2 separate regions of the Homo sapiens genome follow, and region 1 is linked to region 2. Evidence: fine-mapped expression QTL. A gene starts in region 2. The other region holds a variant in brackets. All regions are shown on one strand. Distances are between the middles of the regions.

Region 1 (2,907 bases), 45 kb after region 2:
AGGTGTGAGCCACCACGCTCAGCCCGTTTTTGTCTTTTTGATATGAGATCTCATTCTGTTGCCCAGGCTGGAGTGCAGTGGTGTGATAATAGCTCACTGCAGCCTCCACCCTCTGGGCTCAAGATGCTCCCACCTCAGCCTTTCAAAGTTTGGGGACTACAGATGTGAGCCACAGCATCCCATCCATTATATTCTTAATGATCTCTCTGTACAACTTAAAGTTTATTTTTTCAACTCTGAGTACTTTTAAAGATATATTAACTAGACATTAGATAATAGGTAAAAGAGTAACACCTAATCATTTATTATTTGTTTAGAGATGGAGTCTCACTCTGTTGCCCAGGCTGTTTTTTTTCCTTCAGCACTTTTATTTTTATGTTTTTGGACAGAGTCTGGCTCTGTCGCCCAGGCGGGAATGCAGTGGCGCAATCTTGGCTCACCGCAACCTCTGCCTCCCTGGTTCAAGCAATTCTCATGCCTCAGCCTCCCAAGCAGCTGGGACTACAGGCACACACCACCACGCCCAGCTAATTTTTGTATTTTTAGTAGAGAAGGGGTTTCATCATGTTGGCCAGGCTGGTCTGGAATCCCTGGGCTCAGGTGACCTGCCCAGCTCGGCCTCCCAAAATGCTGGGATTACCACCTGACCTCATTTATTATGTTAAAGACTGTTAGAGATAATGCTGATTGCAATAACCACATTAACAAAGCCTAGTTGAAGAAGGCAGGCATTTGAAAGTGGTTTATTTTCTTATTCAGTTTTGACAGTTCTTAATTTATTCTGAATGTAAGTCCTTTGTTGGATATATGATTAGTAAATATTTTATCCTGGCCAACACGGTGAAACCCCGTCTCTACTAAAAATACCAAAAAAATAGCCGGGCGTCGTGGCAGGTGCCCGTAGTCCCAGCTACTTAGTAGGCTGAGGCAGGAGAATGGCATGAACCTGGGAGGTGGAGCTTGCAGTGTGCCGAGATCGCGCCACTGCACTCCAGCCTGGGTGACAGAGCAAGACTCTGTCTCAAAAAAAAAAAAAAAAAAAAAAGAAAGAAAGAAAAAAAGAAAGCTTTAATTTTAAGTGGGAGCTAAGCTATGAGGACGCAAAGTCATAAGAATGATATAGTGGACTATGGGGACTTGGGAAGACTGGGAGCAGGGGTGAGGGATAGAAGACTACACACTGGATGCTGCTG[C/T]GTACACTGCTTGAGTGATGGATGCACCAAATCCCAGATATCACACCTGGAGAACTTATCCATGTCGCTAAACACTACCTGTTCCCCAAAAACTATTAGAATAATAATAATAGTCCGGGTGCGGTAGCTCACACCTGTAATCCCAGCACTTTGGGAGGCTGAAGCAGACAGATCACTTGAGGTAAGCAATAGTTGAAGATCAGCCTGGCCAACATGGTGAATCCCAGTCTCCACTAAAAATTCAAAAATTAGCTGGGCATGGTGGTGCGCGCCTGTAGTCCCAGCTACTCAAGAGGCTGAGCATGAGAATCACTTGACCCCAGGAGGCGGACGTTGCAGTGAGCCAAGATCATGCCATTGCACTCCAGCCTGGGAGACGGAGACTACGTCTCCAAAAACTAATAACAATAATAATAATAATAAAGCTTTAATTTTGATTAAGTCCAATTTGTACTTTGTTGCTTTTTGTGGATTGGGGTTTTGGTATCATGTGTAAGAACTCTGCCTAATTCAAGGTCATAAATATTTGGTTTTGTTCTAGAAATTTCCTAGTTTTATGTTTTAAATTTATTTATTTATTTATTTATATGTTTATTTATATTCCCCTATTTAAAGCTTTTAATTTAAAAGTAAAATTTAATGTCAAAAATGCAAACTTGGGGAGGGCGTAAAAATCACACTCAAGGCTGCCACCTCACACTTAGAGGGTTGCAGAGCGGCCAGGCAGAGGCGCTCCTCACTTCCCAGACTGTGGGGCGGCCGAGCAGAGGCACTCCTCACTTTTTAGACAGTGCAGCTGCCAGGCAGAGGTGCGCCTCACTTCCCAGACGGGTTGGCGGCCGGGCAGAGGTGCTCCTCACTTCCCAGTTTAAATTTATATCTGTTATCTGTTTTTATTTACTTTGTGTAAAAAGTGTAAGAGTTGGGTTCAGGTTCATTTTTTTGCATATGAAAGTCCAATAGTTGAGACACAATTTGTTGAAAAACTTTTTCTATCTTCATTTAAGTGCTTTTTTTTTCTTTTTTGAGATGGAGTCTTACACTGTCACCCAGGTTGGAGTGCAGTGGCATGATCTAGGCTTACTGCAACCTCTGCCTCCTGGGTTCAAGGGATTCTCCTGTCTCAGCCTCCCATGTAGCTGGGATTACAGGCGCCCGCCACCACACCCAGCTAATTTTTTAATATTTTTAGTAGAGACAGGATTTCACTGTGTTGGCCAGGCTGGTCTCGATCTCCTGACCTCGTGATCCACCTGCCTTGGCCTCCCAAAATGCTGCGATTACAGGCGTGAGCCACCGCGCTGGGCCTTTTTTTTTTTTTTTTGAGACCGAGTTTTGCTCTTGTGGCCCAGGATGGAGTGCAATGGCATGGTCTGGGCTCACCACAACCTTCACTTTCTGGGTTCAAGTGATTCTCTTGCCTCAGCCTCCCAAGTAGCTGGGATTACAGGCACCCACCAGCATGCCTGGCTAATTTTTGTATTTTTAGCAGAGACGGGGTTTCACCATGTTAGCCAAGCTGGTCTTGAACTCCTGACCTCAGGTGATCCTCCCACCTCAGCCTCCCAAAGTGCTGGGATTACAGGTGTGAGCCACCATGCCCGGCCCATTGAATTGCTCTTACACCTCTGTAAAAAGTCAGTCGTCCAAATTTGTGTGGGTTTATTTTTAGATTCTTGTTTTATTGATCCATGTGTCTATCCCTTCCCCAATA
Region 2 (2,907 bases):
GCCTCCCGAGCAGCTGGGACTACAGGCTCCCGCCCACACGCCCAGCTAATTTTTGTTTTTGTATTTTTAGTAGAGACGGGGTTTCACCGTGTTAGCTAGGATGGTCTCGATCTCCTGATCTCGTGATCCGCCCGCCTTGGCCTCCCAAAGTGCTGGGATTAGAGGCGTGAGCCACCACGCCCGGCCCTGTTGATCATATATGTAGCTAATTTATTTTAATTTTGTATAGTGTTCCACCGTCTGAATGTCACAAGTTTGTTTGTTTTTGAGATAGAGTCTCGCTCTGTCGCCCAGGCTGGAGTGCAGTGGCGCCATCTCAGTTCGCTGCAACCTCCACCTCCCGAGTTCAAGCAATTCTCCCTACCTCAGCCTCCCGAGGAGCTGGGATTACAGGCGTCCGCCACCACACTCAGCTAATTTTCGTATTTTTTAGTAGAGACAGTTTTTCGCCATGTTGGCCAGGCTGGTCTTGAACTCCTGACGTCAAGTGATCTGCCCACCTCGGCCTCTCAAAGTGCTGGGATTACAGGCGTAAACCACGGCGCCTGGCCTGAATGTCACAAGTTTTAAAATCCATTCTTTTACTCATTAATAATTTATTTTCAGGTCTGTGATTTGGCTGTTTATATCCTTTCCCCATATATATAGGTATGTATATATTTTTGGAGACGGAGTTTCGCTCTTGTTGCCCAGGCTGGAGTGCAATGGTGCAGTCTCGGCTCACTGCAACCTCCGTCTCCCGGGTTCAAACAATTCTCCTGCCTGAGCCTCCCGAGTAGCTGGGATTACAGGCGCCCGCCATCATGCCAGGCTAATTTTTTGTATTTTTAGTAGAGTTGGGGTTTCACCATGTTGGCCAGGCTGGTCTCGAACTCCCGACCTCACGTGATCCACCCGCCTCGGCCTCCCAAAGTGCTGGGATTACAGGCGTGAGCCACCGCGCCCGGCCTAATTCATTTAATAATCAGCAAAAATCCTCAACATTAAAGTTTACAAGATAAAAATACCCTCTAAACCTCGATTTTAAGAAACCACTAACTTAATTTTTTGTATCCTCTTCTACTCTTCCCAACGTATCATCTTACACTCAACCCAAATCACGCTAGACAATAAATTCTGACATTGAAGCCCCCGCCAAACACCATTTCAACCATTCGGAATCTTAAACTTTTTGGAACAGTTGTTCTGATTTCGGTGACTATGATGTAAAACTGGTTGACCTGTAACATCCACCTCTGGCCCCAAACCTTTCTATCCTTTCCACCGTCCGCTCCCCGTCCGCCCGGCATCCTCGCCCAGGCTCCGCCCCGCTCCTAGGTCGGCCTCGGTCCACGCTCGGCTTTGTCCAGGGGTTTGGCCACGGACAAGCCGCGGGAGCGGAGGCCACCTGCTCACCGCAGGGCCCGGAATCCACATCCCCAGCAGAAGCAGCCTGCAGACTCCGTCCTACCCGTGCACCGCGCGCACTCACGGGGACCCCAGGACACGGGCGAGCCCGGAACCCGAGGACCCACCACGACCCCGAAACCGGGCGTCCAAACAGGCTAGCCCGCTTACCCGAGGCGGCTCCGCCATGGTCCCCGCGGTCCCGCCCGGCCCTGGCAAACCCGACCGTCTCCGGCGGCTCCGCAGGAACCTGCCCTGCTGCGCACTGACTCCCCTCCGCTCCGCCCCAACCCGACTCCCACGCACAGCCCGGGTGGCCCCCAAACGCAGCGCCGGCCGGGCGCGGTGCATGCTGGGACCCGGCGCCCGGCCGCGGCTGCCGCTCAGTCCTACAGCGCCTCCTGCGGGAGGAAGAAGCGGCGCTGCCTGAGCGTCGGTCCTCAGAGGAGGGACCCAGGGGCCCGGGCGCCCTCAGAGCAGGCCGCAGCACGCCGGTCTTTGAGGGACCCTCGGATTCCCGGGATCTGGGGAGGGAAGCGGTCAGAGACAAGCTGAGGAGCTGGCCGGAGGGGAAACGGAGGGGCAGGACATGGAGAGATCAGGGACAGGGACAGGGAGAGATCAGGGACAGGGACAGGGAGACGCGCTCCACAGAAACCCAGACTGAGAGGCAGCGAGAGGGGAACCTCCGGTGCGGTTCCTCCCAAAGCCGCCCCCGAGACAGGCTTCGTCTGTGAGGGGGTCCCGGGAATCCAGCGAGGCCGGAAAGTGGGTGGGGGGCGCGCGCTGCCCGCGGTGGCCCGGGGCATCCGTCCCGCCGGGGGCGCGGAGGCCGTGGGGGCCCCATGCTTGTCCCGCCGGGGACGCGGAGGCGGGGTCCGCCCACCAGGTCCGGTCGCCGTGGGTCTAGAGCCCTCCGGGCTCCCCGGGCGGCCACGCTCCTTCCTTAGCAGAGAACGGCCTTGGGCAGAGACCCCATGCGGAAGCCACCCCGGCCTCAGGGCCGCCTGCAGGGACTCAGGGTGGCCCAAGGCTGCGGTCGGGCACCCCGGGCCCCGGCAGGAGACAGAGACAGAGTAGGAGGAGAAGACGGAGGAGGCCATGACACAGGGCGTGAGAAACACGAGAACGCAAGAACAGGGGAGAGGTGGGGAAACCAGGAAGAGACAGAAAGGAGAGAGGGCGAGGAAGGGGGTGGCGATTGTCTCCAGAAAATCAACCTCGCATTCTGTCTTAGTCATGTCTTAGGTGTCAGGCTGAAGTAGCAAAGGAAAAGTGTGTAGTTTGGAGAGGATGTGCATAAGAAATAAAATAGTCCCTGCGTAGGCTGAGGAGCATATACGCATCTGTGTTTGCCACAGAATCGTGAAATGTACATGCACCTTACTGTTTAACGTTTTTTATTTTTACAACTGTTATACAGTACAATTTTTTTTTTTTGGAGACAAAGTCTCACTCTTGTCACCCAGGCTGGAGTGCTGTGGCGCAATCTCGGCTCACTGCAACCTCTGTCTCCTGGAT

What was found.
Region 1: its variant is fine-mapped to the expression of ZNF786 in whole blood (INTERVAL, PIP above 0.99).

Annotation. Positions count from the first base shown.
Region 1 is chr7:149,134,367-149,137,273 of GRCh38, forward strand. It overlaps a transcript of ZNF398 not described here. Among named protein-coding and RNA genes, the nearest start is that of ZNF425, 9.5 kb to the left of the region's middle. The variant C/T (reference allele first, on the strand shown) is at 1,194.
Region 2 is chr7:149,089,066-149,091,972 of GRCh38, forward strand. ZNF786 (zinc finger protein 786) reads right to left here and starts at 1,653. Exons shown (of 4, transcript NM_152411.4): 1 at 1,558-1,653. The coding sequence starts at 1,575. RefSeq lists silencers at 1,595-1,894, 2,015-2,504.